Linked DNA regions of Homo sapiens. The protein of the gene in region 4 purifies or fractionates together with the protein of the main gene of each other region. This does not show direct contact. Each region holds a gene or a part of one and is shown on either strand. Other genes may lie near its edges.

Region 1 (3,268 bases), on a different chromosome or scaffold from region 4:
AACCTCTGCATCTGTGACACCTACTCTATGACCCCTGGGGACTGACAGTAAAGGAAGGGATGATGCTTCAGGGAGCAGATAGTGTAATCTGATAGTACTCAGGCATAGCTAGGCCTGCCCTTGCCCCTGCAGGTTGTCAGTGATGGTGTACCCCTGGTGCTAGCCCTGGTCCCCCACCGGCAGCCCCACTCCTTCATCACCCAGGGTTCCCCAGACCTGTTGGTAAGTGCATTGTGCAGAGCCCCAGCTCAGCTCCACTCCCCCTTGCCTCTGCCAGAAACCCACCTCTGCCCCCTCCTGCCTGCAGGTGACTGTGAGTGCCAGTGGGCTGCTGGGCACCCACAGCTGGTTGCCCTATGACCGCAACATAAGCAACTACTTCAGCTTCAGCAAAGACCCCACCATGGGCAGCCACAAGTAGGACAGAGGGCTGTGGGTGGGGTGGGCTACAAATGCCCTGCACCCGGAATTATTCCCCTCCCTAATCAGAATGTAGGCCAGCTGCAGGGGAAAGGTCTGGCCAGGCTCCCTGAGGGCCTGGGTCTCTTCCATGTGGCCTGGCCTCACTTGCTATCCCCCTCACTGGGTCAGGACGCAGCGACTGCTGAGTGGCCCGTGGGTGCCAGGCAGTGGTGTGAGTGGACAAGCACTGGCAGTGGCCCCGGATGGAAAGCTGCTATTCAGCGGTGGCCACTGGGATGGCAGCCTGCGGGTGACTGCACTACCCCGTGGCAAGCTGTTGAGCCAGCTCAGCTGCCACCTTGGTATGAACAGCCTTGGAGCTGGGGAGAATGAGGCACACAGGTATGGGGCCGGGTTCTGAGGCTGGCCAGGGCGGATGTGACTCCTCCGTTCTGCCTGTACCCTCCCCTTCCCATGCAGATGTAGTAACCTGCCTTGCACTGGACACCTGTGGCATCTACCTCATCTCAGGCTCCCGGGACACCACGTGCATGGTGTGGCGGCTCCTGCATCAGGTGTGCCTCGTGGGCAGCTCTGTGGGGCCCCCGTAGCCCAGACCTGCAGCCCATCCGTCCCTCAGTGGCCTTCCAGTCCTGTCCTCCTCTAGTCTTGGACAAGGCCTTCATTTCCTGAGCCTCAGGGGACAGTCCTAAGCCAACCCTGGTCCTCCACAGGGTGGTCTGTCAGTAGGCCTGGCACCAAAGCCTGTGCAGGTCCTGTATGGGCATGGGGCTGCAGTGAGCTGTGTGGCCATCAGCACTGAACTTGACATGGCTGTGTCTGGATCTGAGGTGTGTGTATGCATGTGCCCTGGGGAGGGTGAGTTTCCTGGGCAATCCCCCTGGAGCCCAGACTCCTGCCCAGGACCCTAAGTTGCCTTCCTGCAGGATGGAACTGTGATCATACACACTGTACGCCGCGGACAGTTTGTAGCGGCACTACGGCCTCTGGGTGCCACATTCCCTGGACCTATTTTCCACCTGGCATTGGGGTCCGAAGGCCAGATTGTGGTACAGAGCTCAGCGTGGGAACGTCCTGGGGCCCAGGTATGGGGAAGGGGTGCCCAGCAAAGATGGAGGGGCAGTTGGGATCCTGTCCTTGCTGACACTCCCTGCTTCCTCCAGGTCACCTACTCCTTGCACCTGTATTCAGTCAATGGGAAGTTGCGGGCTTCACTGCCCCTGGCAGAGCAGCCTACAGCCCTGACGGTGACAGAGGACTTTGTGTTGCTGGGCACCGCCCAGTGCGCCCTGCACATCCTCCAACTAAACACGTAAGCCCCCCATTTATGGGTTCATGGCCCCTGAAGGTGGTGGTCATTGGTGTAGGATAAAGGCCCTAGGAACCCACACACCATACATGTTTGTGGGCACATATTTCAAGGTTTGTTACCTGTCCCTTCATCTTCCCATGGGGAGGTCTTGCCCTGGGCCTCCGCTTAGCCACAGTTGTGGGAGATTTCTTTGTGTATAAGAATTTCAATTTAACCATCCTTAAAATGAGGACAGAGAGGGTATATGGGATAAGGGATATCTGCTGGTCGCAAAGCCCCCTTGCAGTCGCAAGTTGGTGTATATCCCCTCTCCCTTCCAGACTGCTCCCGGCCGCGCCTCCCTTGCCCATGAAGGTGGCCATCCGCAGCGTGGCCGTGACCAAGGAGCGCAGCCACGTGCTGGTGGGCCTGGAGGATGGCAAGCTCATCGTGGTGGTCGCGGGGCAGCCCTCTGAGGTGAGGATGGGGCGGGGGTGGGGAGGCCCCTCGAACGGGGCGGGGCGTGGCGCGGCGATCCCAGCTGATCCTACTCAACCCTTACGCCCACCAGGTGCGCAGCAGCCAGTTCGCGCGGAAGCTGTGGCGGTCCTCGCGGCGCATCTCCCAGGTGTCCTCGGGAGAGACGGAATACAACCCTACTGAGGCGCGCTGAACCTGGCCAGTCCGGCTGCTCGGGCCCCGCCCCCGGCAGGCCTGGCCCGGGAGGCCCCGCCCAGAAGTCGGCGGGAACACCCCGGGGTGGGCAGCCCAGGGGGGTGAGCGGGGCCCACCCTGCCCAGCTCAGGGATTGGCGGGCGATGTTACCCCCTCAGGGATTGGCGGGCGGAAGTCCCGCCCCTCGCCGGCTGAGGGGCCGCCCTGAGGGCCAGCACTGGCGTCTGCGGCCGCAGCAGCACTTTTTGCACAGTCTGGGGCGGGGTTCCCCGGCTTCCAAGTCGCTGTTTCGTCAAAGCACGAGGGCCGCCTGTGGCCTTAATTCCTAACGGCGGCCCCGGTTCTCCCTTCTCGGCAATAAACCAGGCCTAGTTTTGTAGCTGCTCCGTCTCCGAGTGTGCGTTCGCGCGCAGCGTCTCGGCCTGCCATGGCCACCGTCCCAGGGTCGCCGTCTGAGTCTGGCCTGGCTCGCGTTCCCCTGGCCCGTGACCCCCTCTGGGCCCACTCGCCCCCCCTCCGCGTGGCCGTCGCTGAACTGGGGCCTCAGTTTACCCGGCAGTGTAGCCCCTGCCCCACATCTCGCCCCGGCTTGTGGTTTCCCCACGATCTCTTCATGGGGTCGCCTTCGCACGCCATTCGTCCACAACCGCAACCCGGCCAGGCGCCCCGCAGGCGCGTTTGCATTCCTTCGCCGGGCAGGGGCGACAACACCCGAGGCCGCGCCCCTCCAGCTCGGCCCTGCCACCTCATTGTCTTGCCTACTTCTTGGGCCGCCCTGTGGCGCCGCTGTGGTCTCGGGGTTGGGGGTGGGGGGCCAGAACCACCCCAGAGAGTCCACGTTGTCTTCCCGGAGGGCTCGGTCCTGCCCTGCTGAGTGGA
Region 2 (2,169 bases), about 11 Mb from region 4:
CAGCATTGCTGTCGCGGGGTGAGGCTGCCTACTGTGCCCTGCCGCCCGGCCTTCTGTGCTTCCTCAGGAGAAAGACCAGCAGGGATTCCAGGGGGAGGCCTTTGTTAGCAGTTGTAGAAGAAAATGTTTCCCAAAGAGCTGAGCTGTTTCCCTTTCTCTTCTCTCCTCCTGTATCCCGTCTCCTCCCCTCTACTCTTCCTCCCCTCCCCTCCCTTCTCTTCTTTTCTCCTTTATCTTCTCTTTTTAAACTGTAGTGACAGTAGAGAGGTATATTAGGCTCTGCGTCTGTGCCCCCAAGTAGTCAGAGAGCCCAGATCCCACCCTGGAGAAATGGGAAGTGTCCCATCACATCCACAGGGATGCCTGCGGCTTCTAGTTTCTGGCCCAAGACCAGGACTTGGAAAAGGAAGCAGAACTTGACCTGAAAGAGCAGAAGAGTGGGAGACAGGGCTGAGTTCCTCAAGTTCGAAGAAAAATCAAAAGTCAGATCAAAAAGGACTGCACAGAGGCCTTCCTTGTGAGCCGCCTCTGAACTAGCTGCACTAGGACAGGTGCCAAATGTGCATCGTGTGGGTTTTGCCGTCTGTTTGGCAGGCGGCTGCTTTTCCCTGCTGCTTGGTGGCTTCTCTGCCCTCGCTCTTGAGTGCACCTTCGGTTCCTCCCACAGTTGGGCAAATGAGCCAAACTACCTTCATGGGGTACTGACCGATCTCTCCTTGACTTAGGCTCAAGCTGGGCCATGCCAGAGTGGAGCCAGTGAACACTCAGCTCCAGAAGGGCCCAGGCCACTGAGTCCGTGGTAATTCTGCAAGGCTGGGTCAGAGCCAGGGTGTGGTGCCACTAGGGTTGTCTCCGTAGCCTATTTCTATAGCTGGCCACTGGGGTTGGCAGTGAACAGTAATCACACTTGTTTTGTGAATTGAACAGGAAGATCCCAGTGTCTGAGTGAACTAACAGTCCTGCTTTCAGCCACCATTTGCACAAGACACCCAGCACTGAAAGTCCCGCTGCCAGGAGCAAGGGATCCTTTGGAAGCACCCGCCCTTTGTGCCTTGTTGGGGGAAACCGGTGACGCAGAAGTGAGTGTGGATACACCAGAGTTTGCATTGGAAGGAATGAGTGTCACGTGGGGAGGGAAGGGGCCAGTGGACCTTTTGTAAGCTTTCCACTCAATAAAATGAACCTGTATGGCAAATACTTGAAATGGAACTCACTCCTTCCACTTTCCCCCTTTCTTCTGTCCCAGGAAATAGATCATCTTTTGAAAAGACTCTTGTCTAGGAAAAGTTGTGTCCTTTTCCTAATTTAACGTGTTCTTTCTTAATGAAGTTTTAATTTATTTTTGTTGAGATTTTGCTAGATGGCTTTTGCATCCCCTGTAGATGGTGAGTGTTGGCGGTGATGTCCATCTCGGCGTTCGGAGGCCCCACGGTCCCGAGGCTGGGCCGGGGCCCCCCAGGGTGGCTGTGCTGCTGCCTGTAGGAGGGTGCGGGTTGTGCTGTCATCCTCGGGTTTGCACGCCCTTTTTTAGGAGCCTGTGGACATCTGTGGTTTTGTACTTTGGGGCTTCAGGGGAGGTGTTTAACTTTCTAGTGATTGATGATTGTCAGGTTTTGAAATACCAAAGCTTTTTTGTTCTGTTTTTAAATAAATATCTTTCAAACTTTCACGACCGGTTTGTGTGTGGTTGAAACCTGGAGACATGCACCACGTCTGCCCTCAGCACTAGATCTGTCAGAAGCAGGACACCCACCCGGCCCTGCTGTCACAATGCTATTCCTTTCTGGTATGTTCTACCTCTCTTCAAAGGAGTCTGCCCAGAAGATGTGTTGTTTGCCACCTTTCTGCTCGCCAGGGGGTTGCTGAGTGGCCCTGCTGAGTGGGTTGCTTCTGGCATTACCCTAGCTCCTTCCCTGCTAAGATGCCCTCTCCCCCACCTGCCCTAAAGAGCCAGGGTTCTCCTGCCCTGGGTTTTGCTGGCTATAGGACGTCAGCAAGACAAACCCTGAGTGGTTCTTCTCCAGGTTGTCTGCTGAAGCCACCATCAGATGCCTCCCCTCTGTGGGGAGGAGAAGGGTCCACTCTGGGGACCAAAAAGGGGCCGAGCCGGGCATGGCAGTCCACCTGCGGGGCTGTCCTCAGCGTCTTGGCGTTTAGACTTTCTCTGCG
Region 3 (3,500 bases), on a different chromosome or scaffold from region 4:
GGTGGTGTCGAACTCCTGACCTCAAATAATCTGCGCCCCTTGGCTTTCCAGAGTGCTAGATTACAGGTGTGAGCCACTGCACCTGGCTTGGAGTTAGACTAGACTTTAATCCTGTGTTTACCAGTTTTTAGCTGAATGACCTTGGGCAAATGACTTAGCTCTCTTGATGCTTACTATACTTGTATGGGGACAGCATCACCTATTTTACAGGTTGTCTGAATTAAATGAGCAAGTGTGCAGAGAGCCCCTGGTACAATGCCTGGGTCTTGGTGTTTACTGTGTGGTTGCCATTGTTACGGGATAACTAAATGAATGGCAAGCCACCTGCTCAATGGCCAGCGGGGAGTGTAGGCCACACTTCTGCTGTGGATTTTGCAGGATCCTCCACTGGGGACTGTGTCAGCCCTGCCCTAACTCTAAAGGACTCTGCCTGGCTCCACTAGGAGCCAGGTCTTTCCTAACTGTGGGTCTTTCCTTCCTGTGGGTCTTTCCTTCCTGTTTCAGGCACGAAGGCAGTTCCAGTCTCAGCTGGCTGACCTGCAGCAGCTCCCTGACATCCTGAAGATCACGGAGGCGAAGCTGGCTGAGTGCCAAGACCAACTGCAGGGCTATGAGCGGAAGAACATCGACCTCACAGCCATCATATCAGACCTGCGCAGCCGGGTAAGGGACTGGCAGAAAGGGTCCCACGAACTGACCCGAGCAGGGGCCCGCATACCAAGATGAGCTGCACGCCCCCCAAGGGAGGACTACTTCCTTTTTCTTGGCTGCTGCTTTTTAAAAGGAGTGAGCTATCATCAGTGCTGTGAAATAAAAGTCTGGTGTGCCAAATGCCATGTGTTTGCACAAAGTGATTGTAGTTATAGGAGCCGTCACTTGCGTGGAGTCACTGGGCCCTCCTGCTGTTGCCCCCACCCAAGACTGCTGCCTCTGCCTGTGTGCTCCGCAGCTGTCCTCAGCTCCACACCCACAGCTGGGAGATGCCAGCAGACACCGAGCCGTAGAATTTCTTTTTTTCTCTTGCTTTAGCTGCTTCTCCTGACTCTTTAACAGATGCACTGCCTGAGATTCTGTCCTGAAAGAAGCAAGCATCCCTTTCTCCCAGAAGCAGTCTGTCTCTGGGTTACTGGAACCATGCCTACGGCCTGCAGTGTCCAAGAAATTATATACCACTCATTTGCAGCGTGACCTTGGGCAAGGCCCCTTTCCCACTCTTGACGTGTGTACTTGTGATAATTAGAAAAGGGGCTACCATTTTTTGAGCACCTCTTCTGTGTTCCTGCATTCTCTCATTTAATTCCATCAGGAACTCTGTGAGGTGCATGTGTTATTTTCCCCATTTTACAGAAAGCAGCCCAAGGCATAGAGAGGAGAAGTAATTCCCCACCATCACAGAGCTAGTACCTAGTAAGCAGGGATTGGAACCCAGCCAGCTCTGTCTGGTTCCCAAGCCCACATTCTCAGTACTGTAACCTTACATTGCCTGCCTTCTCCGTTGAACCTGAGCATTCTCAGGGACTTTGAGCCTTGATAGCTGAGGCTTCTGCATAAAACAGCCCTCTGGGTAAATTCTCAAACTTGCCAACTCAAAAGGATTGACAGATTTCCTGTTGTCTTGCCTGCACTTGTCCCCAGTTAAGAGGAGGTTGAGATCAATAGTACCAGCAACATAACAGGTAAAGCTCTGTGGTTGGTTTGTATGGGCCAGTTAGCCCTGCCAGCTGTTTCTGCCTTCTCATGTCTGTCCTGGATCCTAGCTGGGTCTCTCTGAGTGGCCTCCCCTGATCGAGAAAGCATCTTTGTCATTCTTTAGCATCAAACCTGGTTTCTCCCAGTGTGGGGAGAGCCTTTTGTCTTTGGAGTTGGGCCTAACCTGTCCCTGCTGTCCTTTCTCCTCTAGGTTGTGCGTTGAGACTTGGACACCTGCTGAGGGCACTGTGCCCCTTTCCTGGGTGTGGACAACAGGTCATAGGGAAAGGGGAGGGCTCTAGCGGGAAATTCCTTTGTAAACCAGTCTGTGTTCCTGTCATTTTAGATCGAACACCAGGGGGACAAGCTGGAGATGGCGAGAGAGAAACATCAGGCTTCCCAGAAGGAAAATAAACAGCTGAGTCTGAAGGTGGATGAACTGGAGAGGTTAGAGGCACTTGGTCCCATCTCTGTCCTCTTCCTAGGACCTGAGACTTTCAGCCACTTAGCTGTTTTTTGCTTAGTGTGCGGAAGTGTTGAGGGACTCGAGGCCCTGGAAGGTACTAGGCAGACCTCAGAGGAAAAGCTGCTTCCATTTCAGTGGTAAGCATTGTGGGAGAGAGCAAGGGGGCCTCTCAGCCTGGGGAGACACTCCATGACAGCATGATCAGGATCTGCCCACCTGTAGGCACCACCTGTCCCAAAAGGCATGCCTGGTCCAGGCCTGCCAGGAGGGCCCAGTTTGAATGGAGCAGCCAGTATACTGTGGTGGGGGCACTTCCCCACTCTTTTCTGCCCTTTCTTGCCAGTCACCCTTCCCAAGACCTTTCTGATCTGACCGTTCTCTGTTATTTACGGATTGTTGGAGGCAGTCAGAGGTGAAGGGTACGGCTTTGGGAATCAGAAGCCCTGGCCTTGGGGCCCAGCTCTGCCACTTACCAGCATTGTGATCTTGAGCAAATCATTTAATTCCTTTGAAGCTCAATTTCCTCCTTTTGAGGAAAGGGTCAAGGTAGAGTTTATCTATCTATCTATCTATCTATCTATCATCTATCTATCATGTCACTCTGTCACCCAGGCTGGAGTGCAGTGGTGCAATCTCAGCTCACTGCAACCTCGACCTCCTGGGCTCAAGCAATTCTCCTGCCACAGCCTCCCAAGTAGCTGGGACTACAGGCGTATGCCACCATGCCTGGCTAATTTTTGTATTTTTTGTAGAGATGGGGTTTCGCCGTGTTGCCCAGGCTGGTCCTGAACTCCTGGGTTCAAGTGATCCACCCACCTAGGCCTCCTAGAGTGCTGGGAGTACAGGCGGGAGCCACCACACCTGGCTGATAATAATCTTTTCATGGTGGTGGTGTGAGTCTTCAATGATATAATCCTGGTAAAGGTCCTAGCATGTTACCTGGCATAGAGAAGCGCTCAGTATAGCTTAGAACATGTTATTAGTTAGCTGGTATTATCCCAGTTTTAAATATGAGGAAACTGAGCTTGGGGAGGAGTTAAGTGACTTTCCCAGCATCACACTGTTGGTACCTGGCAAAGCATGACTTAGACCCGTGACTGTCTTCCTCGAGAGCTTCTGTGAGCATCTCTAAGAGGTAGGCAAGAGGCCGGGCGTGGTGTCTCACGCCTGTAATCCCAGCGTTTTGGGAGGCCGAGGCGGGCGGATCACGAGGTCAGGAGATCGAGGCCATCCTGGCTAACACGGTGAAATCCCGTCTCTACTAAAAAAAAAAAAAAAAAAAAAAAATATATATATATATATATATATATATATATATATATATATGTATAAAATTAGCCGGGCG
Region 4 (4,051 bases):
AGGGTTTCACCATGTTGATCAGGCTGGTCTCGAACTTCTGACCGATACACCCGCCTCGGCCTCCCAAAGTGCTGGGATTACAGGCATGAGCTACCACGCCCCGCCCGTTTTCAATAATTAAATATAGGTTTGTAGGTTCTGAGAAATTTAATCATCCTTGAGTGCATCTGGAAATCTGCAGACCACTGCTTGACTTCCTCCACTTCCTAAGGGTGGGGCATTGGAGTTTGGGGTTGGGAAAAAAGCGCTTGCACCACAGAAGTGAGTTCGGAAGGTTTCTATGAGACGAGACAGGTTTGGACTAAGGACAGGGAACAAATCAGTAGGAATGGCAGGTGAGAAATAGGTTTAGGACTAACACGAATTATAGTGTCCTTTGGGAATTACCCCTTTCCCCTGCATGGCTCTTTTGGCTTCAGAGATGTATATAGCTGCTTTATTTTATGAATATCAAGTAGCTCCAAACCCTGTGGGGAAAAGCTCCCTGCTCTATCACTTGTGTTACACATTGCTTTTGAGTCATTTTAACGATTTCCCTCACAGTCTGCCACCAACGATGTGTGGACGGCAGCCAGGGAGGGAAAGAGGCATTTCTCCGATCGTTCCAAGGAATGATTATCTAGACAAAATCCTCAGCAAAATGACGAGCCAAATCATCCTTAAATCGTGTGCTCACTAGAGGCGAAAAGATGACCGAAAGAGGCCCGAACGCGTGGCTATGGGCGTGTCTGGGGGGAACGCCGGCCGCGGGGGTGCGAGGGAGGACTCGGGGGCTAAGGGCGGCCGGTGGCGGGACGCAAGCGCCATGGCGGAGCTGGGCCAGTGCTGACCATAGGGGGCGGGGCTCCGGAGGCGGCCACGCGGCGCGAGGCCTAGATTTTCGGCCTCGCATCGGCGGCAGACGAAGAGGGAGGAGCTTCGTCCACCCAGGACCCAGCGCCCCCAAGCCTTGCAGCCACCAAGGGCTTCCACCACAGACCCCTTTGTGTGCCTGCCCCCGCCCCGGAGGCGCCCCAGCCAGGGGCGCTGAGCACCCTCATTGGTTCAGCCGGCAGCTTCATCGATTGGCTCTCGAGTCGTCCGGCGTGGTCCGTTTTGCCTGGATACTACTGGTCGTCTGAGCTGCCTGTCAGGCCGCCTCGCCAAGCGATTGCCCCGTAGCTCGGAGTCCCTGGAAGCAGTTCCGGGAAACCCCGCGTGCTGCCGGGATCGCGTCTCAGTCCATCAGGGGGGGGAGGGGGTGGCGCGCGCGCCATTTCTAGTCGTTTTCAAAGCGCCTCGCGCTGATTCTCACGGGCCCGGCTGCCGGCCCCCGCTCTGCCCTGGTGAGTCTCGCGCCGGCCCGTGGGGGGAGGGGCCGGGAGCCCCGATGCGACCCGACTCAGCCCGGGCTCCGTGCCTGGTCCCGTTTCGTTTGCGCTCCGAGGCCCCGGGGTGGGGGTGGGGACGGGCTGGGGGCGGCTTCGGTCTAGTCCGCCCGCGCGGCTGTGGGCCTAGCCCGGCCGAAACGCTTCTCGCCCTCGCTCTTCCTCCCCCCGCCCCTTTAGCCCGCGGTCCGGCCCGCTGGGCGCTCTCCGCGCGGCCTGCTGGGGCCGGCCGTGCTTTTCCCGCCTCCGCTCGCTGCTCCATGCGGCCGGATCCCGCGAAGGGCCTGAGGCGCCCGCGGCCCTGCCGCTTCTCCCCGCCGGAGCCGCTTCGCTCCCGCCGCGGCCGGCCTAGCCCGAGAGGGATGTGCTGATGATCCGGACGGGCCTGAGGGGATGGGGGTGGGGGGCGGAAGGCGGGGTGCAGATCCCAGGGTTATCTGAGCCGGGAGAAAAGTTTTGTGTGAGCAGAAACCGAAAGGCCGATTTGTGTGGGAAGCCTCCCTCCCCTCCCACATTCTGCATGCCGCGGGCTGAGATTTGAAGGAAAAAATGACTACTAGAGGCCGTAGAACTTAGGCTCCAAGCGGCGCCTGAAATGGATAATTCTGAGACTGTCAGAGGCGCACCAAATTGGAAAGGCGATCCTTTTTCTTACACGGTAGTGGCCGTATTGCCAAATTTTTAAAAAAGCCCAGGGCTTCTTGGAAGGTTCAGTCCTTTCACACTACCTGTTTGAGATTTTTGCAGTCCTCAAGTGGCTGAATTGATGTCTCATGAGTCAGTCGTAGGATGAGAGCTCGACACTCCTAAGCCATGAGATAACCGTTAGTCTCATTTCGTTGGTTCTTTTAAAGCCCGTCTCTTAATATGAAGAATTTGCACAGAGAGGTTCAGAAAAAGTCAGGGAGGAGTTAGTGCTGACATCCCGAATCTCCCAGCAGCCCTTTTAAATCTTTAAATGTCTCCTTTTTTTTTGCAAAAATGTTTAGATCAAATGACTCCAGTCACGTTAGTATATTTGCTGCATCCAGAAATATGGTTTGGCTGTGTGGCATTGTGTTGAATGCCACATTTGAATGAGTTTCAAATGGTCTCATATGACATAAAAAGTCTTTTCAAAATGAGCATTTTGTATTTGGCTTGAAGAGAGAGGGCTTTCCTTGATCCGAAGGTTTTATTTTCTGGAATCTAATTATTTTACGGTTTTTTTGTTAAAATTTACAAACTTTTTTTGAAAATTTTAACCAATTTCAGTATCAACTTGTAGAGCCTTTGCAATGAAATGGTAGGCATAAATATTTCTGTCTTGTACTTAATACACAACTTGTCTTTTTGCTTTACACATACTTAAAAACCCCACCTTAACAGATGTTCATTGAACTTTTCTGTTAAAAATTTGCCTCTTTTCTGTGACTGATAGTATTCCTAGGTACAATGCTGTAAGGGTCTTGTGATACTGAGAACTTTTGAGTTCTGATGATCTTAAGGTAGTATGTGGGGATGGGGGAGCATGGGAAAACAGAACCTTATGTTCGCAAGGAGATTTTGTGTTTTAGGATGCATCTTTATAGAAATAGGTCGTGTTAATCAGTAAACGTATTCATCTCACACAATACAGTTTCTTGATCAAAAGTGTGACATTTCGAATGTTTCCGTTTTTGCTAGTTCATCAGAATTTGAAGCTTGTCTTGAGAAACATCCACCCAGAATTTAACCACAGTCTGCGTCTATTAAGGGCTATCGAGTCTTAATAGTGTTTTGTAATTGTGAGGAGTCATGTTTATCTCATTTTCAGAGTAATCCTTTGCATTTTCTTCTTCTTCCTACTCTCTATTACCTCCTTCCCCTCTTGGTCTTCCTCCCTCTTTCGTTAACTTCAACTAAGTATCAGTGGACTTTGAAATGAAAAGAAGTTGTTTTAAGCCAGAAAACTGCACCTGGTGCATTTGCACAATGTTCGATAAGCTGTCGGGAAGTGTGGTTATCTTATGTGTCTTAGTACTTTGTAGGAGACTTGTATTTTCTTTATAGATGACTAGGTATCTTGAGTTTCATCAAGAAAAGTAGGCTTTTTCTTGAGATCCACCTTTATGTCTTTTATTTAGTATGTGTTGCAATGTCTTGTTCTGCTGCCTATTATCTTCATCACATTGTAATTTCACCACAGACAAATGCACTTTAATTCCCTGTCTTTTGAGGCAGTACACAGACTGGCCTTGTATGGTTTATTGTTTACTCTCTCTCTTCAGGGAGTCAGTCCATTTCAGCATTACCTACAGGCTGAATGTACAAAATTATTTTTGATAGGTTAATCTGAGAAATCTGGCTGAAGTTTAGCCTAATTAGGTAACGGTTTTTGAAATATTTGGAAGAAGTTGTCCATTCTTCAGTATGTTTTTACATCTTTATTTTACTGATATGAAAATTTCAACATGTACTCTTTTTTTTTAAGAAGCAACCTAAACTATAGCTCACTTAGTATTTTATTTGGACTGAAAACAATTGTTTCGCTTTTAAACTTGGTCATTTTTTCTTTTAAATCTGTGGGAATAGCGAATTAATCTTAGAACAAAAATTAATGTCAAGTTGGTTTTTTTTTGTTTTCGTTTTGTATTGTTAGGTGGAGAAAACCCAAACCACCAGCATGTTGAACTAGAGAAAACAGGGCACTTATTTCACACCGA
Region 5 (3,500 bases), on a different chromosome or scaffold from region 4:
AGTGACAAGGACCTGCTACCCCTGGGCAGGTTATGCCGGTTCCACTGTGAGGATGGTGGCAGGGGGCTTCCCAGGAGGCCTGCACATTGGGAAGAGAGGGGCGACCGTGTGTGACTGCAGGACCCAGGGCGCAGTCTTAGGACTCTGATGGGGGAGGAGATGCTGGGGAGCCCTGTTCTGCCAGCCTGGTGACAGACATCTCCTAATGTTTCCCGGCTGGGTACAACTCACAATGTCCTCCGTGGGGAGGCAATTGCCCATGAGGCATCCCTGGCAGGGATGATCTTGTTTCATTGCCACATATCCCAGCAATGAAACAAGAATCTAGAGTGATGTGATTCCTCCGATGACTTCTCCAACCATCTGGGGTTTTTGTGCGACTCCAAGAAGGGGGAAGGAGGCAGCTCTCGCTCCTCTGGGCTCCTGATGTGGCAGCTCTGGAATGGCCACGTGTCCGTTGGCCCACAGTGGGCCATTTGTCGAATGTGGTTGTGGTGGGATTGGGGCTGGGCTGGAGAGTGGGTGACCACACCAGCTAGCCTCACCCTGGGCCACTGTGCAGCCAGGGGTTTCATCTTCCCAGGGGTCTCGTTGTGAGTGTCCTGGGGCTGCTGGAACAAATTACTGGAAACCAAGTGGCCCAACAAAGATTGATTCGCTCATGGTTCTGGAGGCCACAAGTTTGACATCAAGGTATTGGCAGGACCACACTCCCTCCGACAGCTCGAGGGGAGGACCCTTCCTTGCCTCCTCCAGCTTGCGTTGGCCCAGGCGCTCCTTGGCTCTGGCAGCATCTGCAGTCTCTGCTCTCATCACGTAGCCCTCCCCACCGTGTCTCTTTGTGTCCCAAGTCCCCTTCTGCCTTTCTCCTATAAGGACACCGAGCACTGGATTTAGAGCCCATCCCAAATCCAGGATAGTCTCATCCCGGGATCCCTAATCACATCTGCAAAGACCCTTTTTCCAAATAAGGTCACATTCGTGGGTTCTTGGGGTTAGGTATTAGACATGTCTTTTTGGGGGTCACTAGTCAACCCTCTACAGAACCTCAGACGAAAGTGAATCTTCACAGGCTGAAATGGGGGTGAAGGTCTAGTGCGTCCCTCCTCCTTGGGAGCTCCCTCAGGGCTTGTGCCTATCCTGTGATCCTGTGATCCAGCCTTTTTTTTGAGATGAAGTCTTGCTTTGTCGCCCAGGCTGGAGTACTGTGGCACGATCTGGGCTCACTGCAACCTCTGCCTCCCGAATTTAAGTGATTCTTCTGCCTCAGCCTTCCAAGTAGCTGGGATTACAGGCGCCCACCCCCATGCCTAGCTAATTTTTTGTGTTTTTAGTAGAGACAGGGTTTTACCATGTTGGCCAGGCTGGTTTCGAACTCCTGACCTCAGGTGATCCGCCTGCCTTGGGCCTGCCTTGGCCTCCCAAAGTGCTGGGATTACAGGCATGAGCCACCACGCCTGGCATTTAGTAGGTTTTGGTTGTTTTTTTTTTTTGAGACAGAGTCTCACTCTGTCATCCAGGCTGGAGTGTAGTGGTGTGATCATGGCTCACTGCAGCCTTGATCTCCTGGCCTCAAGTGATCCTCTCACCTCAGCCTCTCGAGTAGCTGGGATTACAGGCATATGCCACCACCCCTGGCCAATTTTTGTATTGTTTAGTGGAGTCGGGGCTTTGCCATGTTGCCCAGGTTTGTCTTGAACTCCTGGGCTCAAGCGATCTGTCCACCTTGGCTTCCCAAAGTGTTGGGGTTACAGGCGTGAGCCACCACGCCTGGCTTAGTAGGTTTTCTAGAAGCGCCTGAGGCCTGGTGAAGGCATGGTGTCATGGAGTAGAGAACATTCAACTCTGTTCCCGGGGAGCCGGAACACACCCCTCGTAGCCAATCTCAACAGTCATGACGTGGCCAGGATGACATGGGGAGGGGGTGGTGTGGACTGTGTGGGAGGCCAGCTCCCCGGGAAGGGGGCTGGAGTGGGCTTGGCTTTGAGGAGGATTCCCAAGAGGAGGAGGAGGCGGTGGCATGCTCGTTTGGGGGGATGGCGTGAGCCAGGGTGGGCACCTCTTCATTTAGGTGTCACCTTCTTGACATTCCAGCCGGGACATGGTTTCCTTGGGGAAGATGGACACCCCCAGAGTGGGGCATCTCCTGGGGAAGATGGACACCTCCGGAATGGGGCGCCTCCTGTTCTCACTGTTCTTCTAGCACACAGTTGTATTCTCTTGCAGTTCTGGAGGCTGTGAGATCTCCTGGCTGTTATCTAGAACAAACTCGCCTTTGAGCAGCGCCGTCCTGATGGTGGGGTGGCCCCTGCGGGTGGAACAGCCCCTGCTGTCTCAGAGCTTACTGAGAGCTAGTGGGCATGGGAGTGGTGCTGGACCGAAACACCCAGAGGGATCATAGAGCCAGGCAGTAAGCACAGAGGCCAGCTAGTGGGGAGGGAGGGACCCATCCATGAAAAGACACCAAGCATTGAAAGAGAGGAGAGGATGGTTGGGGACCGGCACACATGTGCATTTTGCGCAGATGGCCAAGGTGGTGAGGCGCCAGCCACGCAGACAACTGGAGGAAGGAGGAGTGCCCTAGGGGAGGGGCCAGCTCCGGTTCTAGAATGATCCGCTTGTGCACGTGGGCCTGGCTGGAATAAATCATTGCATCCGCACCGTAGACTCAATCGTAAGCTCACACCAGGGCAGCCTCTGCTTTGGTGCAGTGTCTTCGATCATGAGTTGGCCATGGTGGGGGTGACTCCAAGGGGACTCCCAAGGAGGGGGTTCACCGGATCTCCCAGGGAAGGTCATTTGTTTTCTTGGGTTGGACCTGGGACAAGGCCTTCTCCTGTCTAGTTTCTGTTCTCCAACTTGACCGCACGGAAGGATGCTGAGGACACCTGGAAGCCGGCCCCTGCTCTACAGCACCCATAGGACAGAGGCACACCATGTGGGGACAGTTTGGACAGTGCTCAGGAGGCAGGGAGCAGATCAGAGGACCGCGGGAGGCCCTGGGAACCGCACGAGGACCCAGGCATTGAGCTCTGCACTTTCTGGCATCAGCCCGATGTACAGTCTGGCTCTGTGTCTACCCCGTACTTCACTTTCCCCATCTGTACGGGGGCGGTAATAATATTCTTTACAGCCCAGGTTTAAGCGGGTGTAGATGTGATGAGCTTGGTAAGCCCATCTCATTACATTCAGTTCTGGGCATTGAACCCTGGACTTTCTGGCTGGTAGAAGTGGACATTCAACCTTTCCTTGGGGCCCTGGGGCTTCTGCAGAATCAGAACACAGCCAGCAGTTTGCATGCAGGGTGCAGAGGGACAGAGGGACACCATGTCGGGAGCCCACACCTGGCACACCCCTGACTCTGGGGCTCAGTGTCCTGCTGCCCTGCGGCCACGTGATCAGCTAGAGGTCATGGCTGGACCCATAGGCGAATACAGCCTGTGGATTTGATTTTGTTTGGCCCTGCGGTGTTTTATTTTATTTTTAGTTTTAGTTTGTGG
Region 6 (3,500 bases), on a different chromosome or scaffold from region 4:
TGGAAATAATGACATTAGTATATAAAGCTCAGATTTGGAAATTTATTCAGACTCTACTGAATAGCTGTGTACTTGTTTTTTATTTCCTCTTCATTTACCTGTGAGTGATAAGTCTATATTTTTCTCTCCCTTTCTAGTTATGTTGGATATTTTAAGTTATCAATTTTTGTTTGTTTGTTTGGGAGCCCAAAGAGTGGTAATTACTTAACCAGTCTTTGCTTCAGTTTCCTTACCTTTAAAATAATACTATTAGGAATGTGTTAATACATTTATAAACCTGAAAGGAATGCAGATGCCTACTACTGCTAACTATCTTTCCACCCTCTTCCTTTCTTTATGTTAAAACCTCCCTCTTTTTTGTCTAAACCTGCCTCCTAAGAATTTCCCGATCTAGTGGAATTGCAGAAAGACATTTTAAGTGTCTATTGAATTTTTCACTGGTTAACTTTGTCAGTTTTTTAAAACTTAATGGTTCTGACATTTAAATGATTAATGACGTTACTTTAGTCTTAGGAAAGCTGGTTCTAAACGTTTGCATAATATAGCTAGCTACTCTACTCCTTTTTAGTATTCCCACCTCTTTTTATATACTAGATTACTTGTCATCAGTAAATGTAATGCGTAGTTTATTTCTACGTGATGTAATTTTTTTCTCTTGTTACACAGGCTGCTTTTGTCAGAGACGTTTTATTACCGGGAGAATGGGATGTATGTGTAACATCTTATGAAATGCTTATTAAAGAGAAGTCTGTGTTCAAAAAATTTAATTGGAGATACTTAGTAATAGATGAAGCTCACAGGATCAAAAATGAAAAATCTAAGGTAATTTGATACTTAGATGTGAAAAGCCTTCATGTAAGAATTTGATTAAAGTACAGATTTTTTTTTCTTTTAACTTTAAGTTATGAGATACATGTGCAGAACGTGCAGGTTTGTTAACATAGGTATGCATGTGCCATGGTGGTTTGCTGCACCCCATCATCTAGGTTTTAAGCCCCGCATGCATTAGGTATTTGTCCTAATGCTCTCCCTCTGCTTTCTCCCCACTCCCCGACAGGTCCTGGCATGTGGTGTTCCCCTCCCTGTGTCCATGTGTTCTCATTGTTCAACTCCCACTTATGAGTGAGAACATGTAGTGTTTGGTTTTCTGTTCCTGTGTTAGTTTACTGAGAATGATGGCTTCCAGCTTCATCCATGTCCTTGCAGAGGATATAAACTCATTCTCTTTTATGGCTGCGTACTATTCGCTGATGTATATGTGCCATATTTTCTTTAACCGGTCTATCATTGTTGGGCATTTGTGTTGGTTCCAGGTCTTTGCTGTTGTAGATAATGCAATATGCAGAATATTCTAATGGTGTATTTGGTTCTTTTCTTTCAGTTGTCAGAAATAGTGAGGGAATTCAAGACTACAAATAGACTATTATTAACTGGAACACCTCTTCAGAACAACTTGCATGAGCTGTGGTCACTTCTTAACTTTCTGTTGCCAGATGTGTTTAATTCAGCAGATGTAAGTATTTCCTGGTGCTTTCTGGTTAATAATAATATTTTGCTTAATGCTATATATTTTTGTAATAAAAGTGGCCTGCCTTTTAGCATGGCTTGAGGTTATTATTAATTTTTTATGCTTTTATTTACATAGTTAGCCTGGTGTTATCTCCTAGGTTGTCTCTGTATAATGGGAATTTACTTTTGTGCCTTTGGTTTCAATCTTATTTCATTATTATTATTATTATTTTATTTTTTTTGAGACGTAGTCTCACTCTGTCACCTATGCTGAAGTGCAGTGGTGTGATCTTGGCTCACTGCAGCCTCCACCTCCGGAATTCAGGTGATTCTTGTGCCTCAGCCTTCCGAATAGCTGAGATCACAGGTGTGTGCCACCATGCCCGGCTAGTTTCTGTGTTTTTTGTAGAGATGAGGTTTTGCCATGTTGTCCAGGCTGGTCTCAAGCTCCTGGCCTCAAGCGATCTGCCTGCCTCAGCCTCCCAAAGTGCTGGGATTACAGGCACGAGCCACCACACCAGGCCTCAGTCTTCTTTAAATCATTGTTTTCTCTATCTGAAATGGCATAAATTGTCACTCCTATTTGGTAAGTCAGGTTGGCCTGACTTTGTTTCAGTGGCTCTAGGTTGACTGGTTATGTTTTTAAGGTGCTGCTCAAGGTATTCCTGAAGTGATTTGTATACCTCACATTGCTTATGTTTTAAGTCCCAAGGATGACTGTCAAATTTAGTGAAATCTGTCTGGCTTTTCTTATATTATAGTCTAACAAACAAATAGAACCTAATCTTTATGGATTATTTATAGTCATAGAAAGGATAGTAATGGTTAATTAGCTATTTGAACTGTTAATAGTAATATAATAACTATGTCAAGAGTTTGTGCTATTAGAAATTGCAGTTTTTTTTGCCTGGACCAGTGTTTATTTTTGAAGCTTTGTTTGCATAGCTGGCGTCTTATGTGTATTGGAGGGATTTGAAGAGCTCCATGTTAGTATATTTTTGTACAATTAAGTTATAAAAAGGTATTAATTAATTTTGTTTTTTTTCTGTTGAAGATTGTTTTGAAAGAATAGATTGTGTTGTAAAAAGATATTTAATCAGACTCCAAAAGCAATTTTAGCTTCGATTTTATGTATTTTGATGTTTTTGAGATAATTCCTGTTTCTCACTACATTGACACTTTCATTTACTTTAAAGCAGTGAATTCTAAGATTATGTTTACTCAAAAACAAAGCACATATATAATACATATGTTCAAGAGATGAGGTTAGGGAAACTGCCCTTGTTGAAATCGTAACCAAATATTAATGAAATGCTGGTAATTTCAATTTCATTTAGTAAGTTTGATTAAAATTGACATTGTTCGTAAACTTGTATTTGAGTAGTGCGAATGGTCTCAGAGAACAAACTATAAAATGTTTTAATTTTCAAGCTTTTATGAAACTTGAAAGATACTTTACAAGAATATTAATTTTCTAATCCTATAGAACTTGCTCTCCAACTTTTTACTGTGAAACTTGTTATTTTGATGTTTTTGAGAAGAATGTTTAGAAGGTAGTGTGATTTCTGAACTACTTGTTTTAAAATTAGTAACAATGACACATGAAAACCAGGATTGGACTAAGTGATTTTTTTTTGTGGGTTACAATTCAAATTACTAATTCTAGAAATCATTTCTATATCTGGTATTATAGGGTATTTGTTAATATTATCTCTGATCTGAGTATATTTTTTGTTTGTTTATCTAGGACTTTGATTCCTGGTTTGATACAAACAACTGCCTTGGGGATCAAAAACTAGTTGAGAGGCTTCATATGGTAAGTATTTTGGAGTAGTGTTAAAGCATATTTATGATGGGAAAAAGGATAAAGGTTTAAATTAGTAGATTATTTTCCTGTTAATAAAAAACACAATGGCTTAAGAATCAGATCTGCTTGAATTCTGACACTTAACTCTTACATCTTACAATCAGTGTAGGGGGTGATGTGTGGT
Region 7 (3,285 bases), on a different chromosome or scaffold from region 4:
TTTCTGAGGCCCATTGTGAAAACTTTTAATTTCTTTTTTAGGTGTGGTGAAACTGGTCATGTAGCCATCAACTGCAGCAAGACAAGTGAAGTCAACTGTTACCGCTGTGGCGAGTCAGGGCACCTTGCACGGGAATGCACAATTGAGGCTACAGCCTAATTATTTTCCTTTGTCGCCCCTCCTTTTTCTGATTGATGGTTGTATTATTTTCTCTGAATCCTCTTCACTGGCCAAAGGTTGGCAGATAGAGGCAACTCCCAGGCCAGTGAGCTTTACTTGCCGTGTAAAAGGAGGAAAGGGGTGGAAAAAAACCGACTTTCTGCATTTAACTACAAAAAAAGTTTATGTTTAGTTTGGTAGAGGTGTTATGTATAATGCTTTGTTAAAGAACCCCCTTTCCGTGCCACTGGTGAATAGGGATTGATGAATGGGAAGAGTTGAGTCAGACCAGTAAGCCCGTCCTGGGTTCCTTGAACATGTTCCCATGTAGGAGGTAAAACCAATTCTGGAAGTGTCTATGAACTTCCATAAATAACTTTAATTTTAGTATAATGATGGTCTTGGATTGTCTGACCTCAGTAGCTATTAAATAACATCAAGTAACATCTGTATCAGGCCCTACATAGAACATACAGTTGAGTGGGAGTAAACAAAAAGATAAACATGCGTGTTAATGGCTGTTCGAGAGAAATCGGAATAAAAGCCTAAACAGGAACAACTTCATCACAGTGTTGATGTTGGACACATAGATGGTGATGGCAAAGGTTTAGAACACATTATTTTCAAAGACTAAATCTAAAACCCAGAGTAAACATCAATGCTCAGAGTTAGCATAATTTGGAGCTATTCAGGAATTGCAGAGAAATGCATTTTCACAGAAATCAAGATGTTATTTTTGTATACTATATCACTTAGACAACTGTGTTTCATTTGCTGTAATCAGTTTTTAAAAGTCAGATGGAAAGAGCAACTGAAGTCCTAGAAAATAGAAATGTAATTTTAAACTATTCCAATAAAGCTGGAGGAGGAAGGGGAGTTTGACTAAAGTTCTTTTTGTTTGTTTCAAATTTTCATTAATGTATATAGTGCAAAATACCATATTAAAGAGGGGAATGTGGAGGACTGAAAGCTGACAGTTTGGACTTTTCTTTTTGTACTTAAGTCATGTCTTCAATAATGAAAATTGCTGTTAAAAGGATGTATGGGATTTAGATACTTTTGCAAAGCTATAGAAAATTCACTTTGTAATCTGTTATAATAATGCCCTTGAGTTCTGTGTTCAGTCTGAACAGGTTTTTTGGTGGTGGTGGTTTTGTTTTGTTTTGGAGACGGAGTCTCACTCTTGTCGCCCAGGCTGGAGTGCAGGCTTGGCTCACTGCAACCTCCACCTCCCGGGTTCAAGCAATTCTCCTGCCTCAGCCTCCTGAGTAGCTGGGATTACAGGCACCCGCCACCACCCCCCGCTAATTTTTTGTATTTTTATTTTTATTTTATTTTTTTATTTTTTTTTGAGACAGAGTGTCGCTCTGTTGCCCAGGCTGGAGTGTAGTGGTGCGATCTCGGCTCACTGCAAGCTCCGCCTCCTGGGTTCGTGCCATTCTCCTGCCTCAGCCTCCTGAGTAGCTGGGGCTACAGGTACCCGCCACCGCGCCCAGCTAATTTTTTTTTTTTGTATTTTTAGTAAAGACGGGGTTTCACGGTGTTAGCCAGGATGGTCTCAATCTCCTGACCTCGTGATCCGCCCGCCTTGGCCTCCCAAAGTGCTGGGATCACAGGCGTGAGCCACCGCGCCCGGCCTATTTTTTGTATTTTTAGTAGAGACTGGGTTTCATCATGTTGGTCGGGCTGGTCTCCAACTCCTGACCTCAGGTGATCCACCTGCCCCGCCCCCCAAAGTGCTAGTGTTACAGGTGCGAGCCACCGTGTCTGGCCGATTCTGAACAGTTTTAATACCATTGCTATTTTTGTGTTTTTCCTGGGCCTTTTTTTTTTTTTTTTTTTTTTTTGAGACAGTCTCGCTCTGTTGCCCAGGCTAGAGTGCAATGGTGCAATCTCAGCTCACTGCAACCTCCACCCCCCACCCCCACACCCCGTTCAAGTAATTCTCCTGCCTCAGCCTCCCAAATAGCTGGGATTACAGGTGTCCGCCACCACACCCAGCTAATTTTTGTTATTTTTAGTAGAGATGGGGTTTCACTGTGTTGGTCAGGCTGGTCTCCAACTGTTGCCCTCAGGTGAGCCACTGTGCCCCACCTTTTCCTGGGTTTCATAAGGATCTGAAGTGGTGGATTCCTTGTTTTTGCTAGTGTCTCATTTAGAGTTGAGATGGACCTTAAAACTCATCTGTTTTAACTCACTTTTTAATAGATGAGTTAAACTTAATTTACTTAAGGATGTACAGTTAGAGCCTGGAACTTCAACCATTATTCACTCCCCATGCCCTGTTTCCCCCCACTTCGAAATTAAATGCGGTTAGCATCATATAGTTCATTTTCCCCCTCCATGCTGCTGTGTGATTCTTGACTTTGGGTATGAGTTTTTCATCCTTCATGCAGGGTTCTGTCAGTTCATGGTATAGTGATTCAGTGTTAAAATGGTGGTGTCTCAGCTGTGCTGTGCACATTCCAACCTTGTCAAATTAATAGTCCTGAGCAAGCAAGAAAAAGAGGTAATAACATACCCATTTCTTTATGAATATAAGCTTATAATATTTTTTCATGTGCTATTTTTACTGAGCAAATTGTATGTCTCACATGTTAACACAATAAATATCTTGACAATTTTATTTTCTACCATATGTATGAAACAGCATAAGGAAAGACTTTTTTTCGAAGGCATCACTGTTAGGTTGGGGGAAAGATTTATTTTTGAAGGCATCACTGTTAAATGAGGTTTGGGGGCTGGTGTGCACATGGAGTTATTTCCCCCCAAATTCTGGGCCTCATGTAGGAAAACCTAAAACATAGCAAATGGGATATGTTGTTATGGCTCTTCAGGTCAGCTTAGTTCTCATTAATAATACTTTCTCCTGCGTTAATCACAGCTTTGTGTGTTGGGAAGGGAAAAAGTAAAGTGGGTTGGTTAAAATTTAGAACTCCTTTGCTTCATGCACCCATTCCTTGTGCTGAATTTGTAGTACTTTAGTTGCTTTGTGAGACCTTTTGAAACAACATAATTAAGGACCTATTCACAGGAGACTACAAAGTGTTCCTTTATAAGATAAAATTTATTTGCATTGACCTTGATGACTGGAAAGCAAATGCAACATGAAAATGTGTATTTTAC

Evidence for each region.
Region 1: the proteins of HNRNPR (region 4) and NBEAL2 purify together in Homo sapiens (tandem affinity purification; one large-scale study listed by IntAct). This does not show direct contact.
Region 2: the proteins of HNRNPR (region 4) and KIAA2013 fractionate together in Homo sapiens (co-fractionation; one large-scale study listed by BioGRID). This does not show direct contact.
Region 3: the proteins of HNRNPR (region 4) and ODF2 purify together in Homo sapiens (co-immunoprecipitation; one large-scale study listed by IntAct). This does not show direct contact.
Region 5: the proteins of HNRNPR (region 4) and SEPTIN9 fractionate together in Homo sapiens (co-fractionation; one large-scale study listed by BioGRID). This does not show direct contact.
Region 6: the proteins of HNRNPR (region 4) and SMARCA5 fractionate together in Homo sapiens (co-fractionation; one large-scale study listed by BioGRID). This does not show direct contact.
Region 7: the proteins of HNRNPR (region 4) and CNBP purify together in Homo sapiens (affinity purification with mass spectrometry; 2 studies listed by BioGRID and IntAct, with this or other methods). This does not show direct contact.

The regions. Positions count from the first base shown.
Region 1 is NC_000003.12:47,006,934-47,010,201, forward strand, and holds the end of NBEAL2 (neurobeachin-like protein 2), read left to right. Parts: intron 1-132; coding exon 133-222; intron 223-307; coding exon 308-417; intron 418-591; coding exon 592-764; intron 765-882; coding exon 883-977; intron 978-1,136; coding exon 1,137-1,253; intron 1,254-1,349; coding exon 1,350-1,508; intron 1,509-1,586; coding exon 1,587-1,735; intron 1,736-2,055; coding exon 2,056-2,191; intron 2,192-2,285; coding exon 2,286-2,387; 3' UTR 2,388-2,768; downstream 2,769-3,268. UniProt on the Homo sapiens protein: Probably involved in thrombopoiesis. Plays a role in the development or secretion of alpha-granules, that contain several growth factors important for platelet biogenesis.
Region 2 is NC_000001.11:11,919,091-11,921,259, reverse strand, and holds the end of KIAA2013 (uncharacterized protein KIAA2013 precursor), read left to right. Parts: intron 1-927; coding exon 928-945; 3' UTR 946-1,669; downstream 1,670-2,169.
Region 3 is NC_000009.12:128,494,006-128,497,505, forward strand, and holds part of ODF2 (outer dense fiber protein 2), read left to right. Parts: intron 1-504; coding exon 505-663; coding exon of another isoform or gene 664-726; exon of another isoform or gene 727-835; intron 836-2,035; coding exon 2,036-2,136; coding exon of another isoform or gene 2,137-2,292; intron 2,293-3,500. UniProt on the Homo sapiens protein: Seems to be a major component of sperm tail outer dense fibers (ODF).
Region 4 is NC_000001.11:23,341,485-23,345,535, reverse strand, and holds the start of HNRNPR (heterogeneous nuclear ribonucleoprotein R), read left to right. Parts: upstream 1-1,251; 5' UTR 1,252-1,325; exon of another isoform or gene 1,326-1,962; coding exon of another isoform or gene 1,963-2,025; intron 2,026-4,051. UniProt on the Homo sapiens protein: Component of ribonucleosomes, which are complexes of at least 20 other different heterogeneous nuclear ribonucleoproteins (hnRNP). hnRNP play an important role in processing of precursor mRNA in the nucleus.
Region 5 is NC_000017.11:77,396,499-77,399,998, forward strand, and holds part of SEPTIN9 (septin-9), read left to right. Parts: intron 1-485; exon of another isoform or gene 486-556; intron 557-3,500.
Region 6 is NC_000004.12:143,527,202-143,530,701, forward strand, and holds part of SMARCA5 (SWI/SNF-related matrix-associated actin-dependent regulator of chromatin subfamily A member 5), read left to right. Parts: intron 1-666; coding exon 667-822; intron 823-1,381; coding exon 1,382-1,513; intron 1,514-3,256; coding exon 3,257-3,325; intron 3,326-3,500. UniProt on the Homo sapiens protein: ATPase that possesses intrinsic ATP-dependent nucleosome-remodeling activity.
Region 7 is NC_000003.12:129,167,327-129,170,611, reverse strand, and holds the end of CNBP (CCHC-type zinc finger nucleic acid binding protein), read left to right. Parts: intron 1-41; coding exon 42-159; 3' UTR 160-2,785; downstream 2,786-3,285. UniProt on the Homo sapiens protein: Single-stranded DNA-binding protein that preferentially binds to the sterol regulatory element (SRE) sequence 5'-GTGCGGTG-3', and thereby mediates transcriptional repression. Has a role as transactivator of the Myc promoter.